Regions from separate parts of the Homo sapiens genome. Here all the other regions are linked to region 3. The links come from fine-mapping of genetic effects on gene expression. A gene starts in region 3. Each other region holds a variant in brackets. All regions are shown on one strand. Distances are from middle to middle.

Region 1 (2,762 bases), 24 kb before region 3:
TGTAATCCCAGCACTTTGGGAGGCCGAGACGGGCGGATCACGAGGTCAGGAGATCGAGACCATCCTGGCTAACACGGTGAAAACACGTCTCTACTAAAAATCCAAAAAAATTAGCCGGACACAGTGGCAGACGCCTGTAGTTCCAGCTACTCAGGAGGCTGAAGCAGGAGAATGGTGTGAACCCGGGAGGCAGAGCTTGCAGTGAGCCAAGATTGCACCACTGCACTCCAGCCTGGGCAACAGAGCGAGACTCTGTCTCAAAAAATAACAAATAAACAATTAAATAAAAATTAAAAAATATTATGCCTTATGCACAGAGGCCTAAGAGAGTTTGGAAGGGAGGTGGTAAAGTCTATGAAAATATCCAATAATCCAACAAATAATTATTTTTGCCACAGGAGCTGAACAAACAACATATGGCCAAACTAAGTTCCAAATTCCTGAAAAATATGTAACTATATTGCCTAGATGGAAAAGGAATGTGATAGAACTGCACATTCTGAATTCTATTATTATTTGCAATGGCATTTCCTAAATAGTCCATTTTACAAGAGTTCCCACCAGTTTAAGGGGGGGGGGGCGCTGATGCTTTTTTCCCTGGGGCTAAACAATTCATTAGTTTATGTAGCATGTTAAGATATTTCCAAAGTTTAAAATAATATTCAGCCAGGCATGGTGGCTCACACCTGTAATCCCAGCACTTTGGGAGGCTGAGGTGGGTGGATGACTTGAGGTCAGGAGTTCAAGATCAGCCTGGCCAACATGGGGAAACCCCATCTCTACTAAAAATACAAAAATTAGCTGGGTATGGTGGTGCACACCTGTAGTCCCAGCTACTCGGGAGGCTGAGGCAGGAGAATCGCTTGAAGCCAGGAGATGGAGGTTGCAGTGAGCTGAGGTCACACCACTGCATTCCAGCCTGGGCGACAGAGCGAGACCATCTCAAAAAAAAAAAAAAAAAAAAAAAAAAAAAAGCAAATGAATAAAACTCAGGCTCTTATTAACTACTTTAAAAATACAAAATAAATCATAGGTCACTATTTGATGCAAAAGTGAATGATATTGCAAAGTAATACTTATGTTAATATTAACTACTAATTTAGCAAAAATTATTATAATATGACTACATAGGAAGGAAGGAGACAAGGGTAGTAAAACAACTAAAATCTTACCTACTCTGTCCTCAGTTGAATAGCTGTAGGAGACCAGAATATGCTACCTCAAAGCACACCTTTTTGGCTAAGGATCATTTTGAGAAACAGCAGACACAGGGGAAGCTCTGAAAAGAGAGCCGAAGTCACCCTTTTGTAAGACAAATGTTCATCTATAAAGGGAATCTCCATTTCAGGTGAGACC[C/CT]TTTTTTTTTTTTTTTTGAGATGCGGTCTTTCTCTGTCACCCAGGCTGGAGTGCAGTGGCTTGATCTCTGCTCACTGCAACCTCTGCCTCCCGGTTCAAGCGATTCTCCTGCCTCAGCCTCTTGAGTAGCTGGGATTACAGGTGCGCACTATCACGCCCGGATAATTTTTTTTGTTTTTAGTAGAGACGGGGTTTCAACATGTTGCTCAGGCTGGTCTCGAACTACTGACCTCGTGATCTGTCCACCGCGGCCTCTCAAAGTGCTGGGATTACAGGCGTGAGCCACCGCTCCTGGCCACAGGTGAGACCCTTTCTATATAAGAAAGAGAAAAATGTCTCTCAATCACAAGAGAATGCTAACAACGGGGAAAGCACAGACACAAACCTGCATAACAAACCTTACCTTTATTTATCATACTTTTCTTGGTCACTATCCCATAGCTCAGTTCCCCCATATCTTTCTTTCTTTGATTTAGCTGAACATGGTATTTAAGCCTGAATCCAAAACCACTTCTTCAAGATTTTTCATTCCACTGGGTATCTCCCATGTATATAGAACATATACATGGTAATAAACTTCTGCTTGTTTTTTTCTGTTTGTTTGTTGGAGAGAGAGTTTCGCCCTCATTTCCAGGCTGGAGTGCAATTCACCGCAACCTCCACCTCCCGGGTTCAAGCGATTCTCCTGCCACAGCCTCCCGAGTAGCTGGAACTACAGGCGCACGCCACCACGCCTGGTTAATTTTTGTATTTTTGGTAGAGACGCGGTTTCACCATGTTGGCCAGGATGGTCTCGATCTCTTGACCTAGTGATCTGCCCACCTCGGCCTCCCAAACTGCTGGGATTACAGGCGTGAGCCACTGCGCTCAGCCTTTTTTTTTTTTTTTAAGATAGAGTTTCACTCTTGTTGTCCAGGCTAGGGTACAACGGCACAATCTTAGCTCAACGCAACCTCCGCCTCCCGAGTTCAAGCGATTCTCCTGCCTCAGCCTCCTGAGTAGCTGGGATTATAGGCATGTGCCACCAGGCCCGGCTAATTTTGTATTTTTAGTAGAGACAGGGTTTCTCCATGTTGGTCAGGCTGGTCTCAAACTTCTGACCTCAGGTGATCCGCCCGCCTCAGCCTCCCAAAGTGCTGGGAGTACAGGCGTGAGCCACTGTGCCTGGCAATGCTTGTTTTTTTTTTATTATTAATCTTCTGTTACAGGGGCCCTGGACCTTAGAAGAGTGGAAGGAAAAAAACTTTCCCCTTAAATAGATAATGTCCATTACGGAATCAAAAAAGGCAATATAAGGCTGGGCATGGGGGCTCATGCCTATAATCCTAGCACTTGGGAGGCCAGGGTGGGAGGAATCCTTAAGTCCAAAACCAGCCTGGGCAACACAGCTAGACCCTCTTTCTAAA
Region 2 (2,762 bases), 36 kb after region 3:
GTTTTTCTCATCTGTATCTCTTCTGAGGGAGGCATCCTCATGGTGAGAACAGAATGATGACTTCTGCATTGGTTAAGGGTTTATACAGAGAGGAGGTTGGTGTTGGAGCCACGTTGGACTATTTCTGCCCGTTTGCTGGTCAGCACTCATTTCTATACTTAATCTACAAATAGCTTTGTGGAAGTCAGAGCAAGATAGAGGGATAGAGGTTCGAAGCCTTGGTGCTGCCTGGGGTAGGTGGGGTCTATGGTTCAAGGCTCTGATCTTCATTTTTGCAGGCGGAGAAACTCCATCTATCCATCCATCAAAGATTTATTGAGTTTCTTCATGACCAGGCCCTGCTCACGGTGTTAGGGATTCAGCAGAAAGAAACACAAACAAAACTTCCTACGCACACAGAGAGTGTTTCCTTGTTGACGCCCTCAATAATGTGTGTGCCTCAGAGGTTATCAGGCACCTGGGAGACTGACTCACGTTAACTTCCTAGAAGCTGACATACTCACCTGATGCTACATGGTTCCTTGACTGGGTGTGAATCGACCTCTACACTGGTTGGAATTCTTGTGCCTGGAATCCTCGGGGCCTGAGAGGCTGAGTTCATTTGACTGCTGACATCAGATCCCAGGGATGTGGGTGGTTCCAGATGCATTCCCTTTTGCCCTGGAGAAGGCCCTGCACCTGAATGCATCTTGGAGGGGAGATTATATTTGAATTGATAAAATTTGGTGACTGCTTAGCTCAGTGTTAGAAGTTTTTAAAATTTGTGGTAAAATATACTTAACATCTTTACCTTGTTAACCATTTTAAGTGTACAGTTTAGTGGCATCAAATATATTCACAATGTTGTATAACCATTACTATCATCTACACTCAGAACTCTTTCATCATCCCCAACATAAACCCATTACACAATAACTCCCGATTCCTCCCTCCTATCAACCTCTGACAACCACCTTTCTTTCTGTCTCTACCAATTTGCCTATTCTAAGTGCCTCACTTGAGTGGAATCATACAATATTTCTCTTTCTGTGTCTGTCTTATTTTACTTAGCATAATGTTTTCAAGGTCTATTTGTATTTTAGCATTTATCAAAATTTCAAGCTGGGCGCGGTGGCTCACGCCTGTAATCCCAGCACTTTGGGAGGCTGAAGCAGGCGGATAACCTGAGGTCAGGAGTTCAAGATCAGCCTGGCCAACATGGTGAAACCCTGTCTCTACTAAAAACACAAAAATTAGCCAGGTGTGGTGGTACGCGTCTGTAATCT[C/T]AGCTGAGGCAGGGAAATCGCTTGAACCCGGGGGACGGAGGTTGCGGTGAGCTGAGAACATGCCAATGCACTCCAGCCTGGATGACAGAGCAAGACTCCATCTCAAAAAAAAAAAATTAATTCCTCATTTCTGGCTAATAAATTTCATTCCTTTTTATTGCTGAATGAATATTCCATTGGATGTATATACTACATTTTGTTGATCAGTTCGTCTGGTGATGAACACTTAGGCTGTTTCTACTTTTTGTCTGTTGTGAATAATGCTTAATGCTTCTGTGAATATGAGTGTACAAATATCTGTTCGCATCTCCAGCTTCAATTCTTTTGTATATATACCCAAGAAAGATATTTTTATTTAATGTTTTCTTGAAATATAATTCACATACTATAAAAATAATCATGTTAAAGTTTACAATTTAGTTGTTTTTAGTATATTAACCAGGTAACATAACCATTACCTCTACCTAATTCCAGCACAGTTTCATCACTCCAAAAAGTAACCCATAACCATTAGCGGTCACTCTCCGTACCCTGTCCTCATCCATCCACTTCCCCCACGCTGGCAACAGGTAGTCTATTTCTTGTCTGTATGGATTTGCTTATGCTGGATGTTTCCATATCCCTGGAATCCTACAGTATGTGGCCTTTTGTGTCTGGCTTCTTTCACTTAGCATAATGTTTTCGGGTTCATTCCCAGGTGATTTTTAACAGGTTACCAAGGTTGAGGAACCATAGATCTGCCTCTGCAGACACCCACCCTGTCCATGTGTGTTAGCTTCCCACACAGAGCCATCCGTGGCCTGGCTTTGAGCAGCCTTCTGGCCAATGGCAGGCTGTACTTCCTGGTTCCTGTGGGAAGGAGCCTGCACCCCACTCCACCCACACCAGCAGCCCCTGTTTTGAGTGAGTAGCAGGCACCTGTGTTCTGCTATTAAAGCACACGCTTCTCAAATTATTACCTTTAACTTTGGCCAGCCCCAAAATTTGTACCTCCATTTTCTCAGGATTTTAATGAGAATTAAACAATACATGTTTAATTTAGAAGAATGCCTGGTACTCAATAAACGCCTATTAAATATGAGCGTGAGTGTGTTTCTATTAGAGATAGGAGAGAGACCAATCAAGAAGCAGACACAGAAAAGTACGTGTTGGGACAGGAGGTAAGGAGGGACTGTTGGAGTTTGTGTATCTCTATCTGAATTTTGTCATTAGCTGTGTTATTCTCTTGAATAAGTAATATCATGTCTGAATTTTTCATTTCTTTCTTTCTTTCTTTTTTGAGGACGGAGTCTCACTCTGTTGCCCAGGCTAGAGTACAGTGGTGCAATCCTAACTCACTGTAGCCTTGACCTCCTGGCCTCAAGCAATCCTCCTGCCTCAACCTCCCGAGTATCTGGGACTACAAGTGCTCACCACCACGCCCAGCTAATTTTTTTGTAGAGACATTTGGCTGTGTTGCCTAGGCTGGTCTCAAACCCCTGGCCTCAAGTGATCCTC
Region 3 (2,762 bases):
ACTCCCAGGTTCCAGCAATTTTTCTGCCTCAGCCTCCCAAGTAGCTGGGACTACAGGCCGTGCCACCACACCCTGCTAATTTTTGTATTTTTAGTAGAGCCAGGGTTTCACCATGTTGGACAGGCTGGTCTTGAACTCCTGACTTCAGGTGATCCAACCACCTCGGCCTCCCAAAGTGCTAGGGTTACAGGTGTGAGCCACTGCGCCTGGCCTAATATGCGGTTGAATCCGATTTTATTACGTTTTATTCAGTATTTTTGCATTTATATTTATAAATTAGATCGTGCCCTGTTTTTTCAGTTTTATTTTTCTTTTTTGTTGCTCTCTTTGCCAGGTTTTGGTATCAGAATTGTGTTTGCTTCCAAAACGAGTTGAGAAAGAGTTGGTGATTTGCTTTCATTATTCCAAAATTTTAATAAATTATAACACCCAATTCCAATTCCAAGTGCATCTGATTACTCTAATGGATTCCTGTGGCTTCTGGGTCTCTATGATGAAGTCCTCCCTGGCATAGGCTCGTATATGGGAGCTTGTAGGATGTCTGCAAGTATCAGCTCACAGTGCGGCCGCTGATGGCTTGGAGGACCCTCACGGTGCCTTAAAACTTTTGCCTAGACAAGTGTCACGGGAGCCTCTCGCAATACATGCCTCCCTTTTCTTTTTTTGGAGACAGTGTCTCGTACTGTCGCCAGGGCTGGTGTGCAGTGGCGCGATCTCGGCTCGCTGCAACCTCCGCCTCCCGGGTTCCAGCGATTCTCCTACCTCAGCCTCCCGAGTAGCTGGGACTACAGGCACGCGCCACCAAGCCTGGCTAATTTTTTTGTATTTTTAGTAGAGACGGGGTTTCATCATGTTGGCCAGGATGGTCTCCATCTCCTGACCTCGTGATCCGCCTGCCTTGGCCTCCCAAAGCGTTGGGATTACAGGCGTGAGCCACGGCGCCCGGCCTTCCTTTTCCTTTAAGCAGTATTAAAAAAAAAAAAAAAAAGTCCTGAAGGATGGTTTCGGTCTCTTTCAAGGTAGACCATACCCTTGTAACTAAGCTTAAAAAATTAAAATCTAATTTTCCCTCCCTCTCCAAAGCAGCAAGGGAAAATTGGATCCACGGCCACGTAGGAGCCCCTCACGGCACCAAACCCGGTGTCTCCAGGGACGGGCGGAGACCAGCGGGTGGGCTTGGGCAGTACGCGCTTTTCTCTTCCGACTTTGGGCCAAAGCCTTGTCCGGAGATCACAGTGTCTCGCTCGGGGACACGCCCTCTCTAGGCCCAGACTTGGTCCCCACTGGAGTTCCCAGCCCCCCTCCCCGCTGCGGCACGCACATTCCCAATGCCGGGCGGGGCAGGGCGCAGCAGGCCCGCCCTCGGCGCGCGGCCAGGCTGGGCTCCTCCCCTGGAGCTGCGGCCGGGAGGGCGGGCGGCCGGGGAGACGGGGTGGCGGCTGCAGCCCGGGTAGGGCCAGGAGACCCGGTCCACGTTTGCAAACGCAGCCGAACGCCCAGGCCGACCCGTGCCGCCCGAGCGCCGCGCTGCGTCCGCGCCACTCTTCTCGCCGCCCCGATGGCGTTCCGGGGCTGGAGGCCCCCGCCGCCACCGCTGCTCCTGCTGCTGCTCTGGGTGACCGGGCAGGCAGCGCCCGTGGCGGGCCTGGGCTCCGACGCGGAGCTGCAGATCGAGCGGCGCTTCGTGCCCGACGAGTGCCCGCGCACCGTGCGCAGCGGCGACTTCGTGCGCTACCACTACGTGGGGACGTTCCCCGACGGCCAGAAGTTCGACTCCAGGTACCGCGCCCTTGGCGCCCGGCGCGGCCTCAGCGGATGCGCGTCCCTCTCTCCGGACAGGCCTTTCCCTCCTGCCGGACCTCCCCTAGCTCCGCCCCGTGCAGCCGCGCTCCTCCCTTCTTCCGCTGCCCAGATCCTCCCGGACCCCAGACCCTCCGCCGCGGGTGAGCCTCCCGGCCCTCACGTGCCCTAGGCTGCCAGCCGGGGACTGGACCCTTGGAGGACCTTGAGCAGCGGGGTTGGGGCAGACCACGTCCTCCCTTTCCTCCCAGCGCATGGACACACGCAAAATCAGTGTAAAATAATCAGTGTAAGTGGAGGCCACGTTGCACAACTGGACCCCCAAGAGTGGATGTTCGTGCCTGCCTCTCTTCGCCCTTTCCTGTTCCTTCCCTCCGCTCCCTTGGGAATCTAGTCAGATGGTGCTTCTCACACAGAACAATGATGAAGAGGCTAGCAGCCCCAAACATACAATGAGCTGTTAACAATGTGTAGGTGTAGTTCTAAGTACTTTCCATATTGTAGTGAACTCATTTAATTGTACAGCAGTCTTGTGAGGTAGGTACTATCACTACCCTCATTTTATCAGTAAGGTAACAAGCAACTGCGGCTAAGAAACGTGTTTAAACAATGGAGTCAGATTGTTTAATCCAACTCCAGAGTCTGTGTGCGCAACTACCACTGCCCTTCCTTTCCTGCCATACAAAAACCTCTCTTGGGGCTGGGCGTGGTGGCTCACGCCTGTAGTCCCAGCACTTTGAGAGAACGAGGCGGGAGGATCGCTTGAGCCCAGGAGTTTGGGGCTGCTGTGAGCTATGATCGTGCCATTGCACTGCAGCCTGGGAGACAGAGAGAGATCCCATCACAAAACAAAACACAACACGACACCTCTCGTGGGCAGGAGGTAGTCCAGGACCGTCACTCTGCTTTATACCAGGCCCTATATCAAGCCCAGAACTCCTTCTCTCAGCTCTGCCTCAGGA

Alleles and levels. Alleles are on the strand shown, and positions count from the first base shown. SD is a standard deviation of normalised expression in the study named. Not every link is listed here.
With allele CT in place of C in region 1, the expression in lymphoblastoid cells of the gene that starts at base 1,425 in region 3 is lower (large effect, 0.83 SD a copy in TwinsUK).

Evidence for each region. PIP is the estimated chance that this variant, and not a neighbour inherited with it, causes the effect. A credible set is the group of variants that fine-mapping cannot tell apart.
Region 1: its variant is the best candidate, but not a certain one, in a credible set for the expression of FKBP9 in lymphoblastoid cells (TwinsUK, PIP 0.53).
Region 2: its variant is the best candidate, but not a certain one, in a credible set for the expression of FKBP9 in whole blood (INTERVAL, PIP 0.82).

The regions. Positions count from the first base shown.
Region 1 is chr7:32,932,228-32,934,989 of GRCh38, forward strand. It overlaps the pseudogene RP9P. Among named protein-coding and RNA genes, the nearest start is that of FKBP9, 24 kb to the right of the region's middle. The variant C/CT (reference allele first, on the strand shown) is at 1,357.
Region 2 is chr7:32,992,444-32,995,205 of GRCh38, forward strand. The region is part of intron 6 of FKBP9 (FKBP prolyl isomerase 9); the gene reads left to right. Among named protein-coding and RNA genes, the nearest start is that of FKBP9, 36 kb to the left of the region's middle. The variant C/T (reference allele first, on the strand shown) is at 1,266.
Region 3 is chr7:32,956,016-32,958,777 of GRCh38, forward strand. It overlaps FKBP9 (FKBP prolyl isomerase 9), which reads left to right and starts at 1,425. Exons shown (of 10, transcript NM_007270.5): 1 at 1,425-1,779. The coding sequence starts at 1,559. RefSeq lists enhancers at 272-1,222, 1,072-1,121 and a silencer at 1,212-1,681.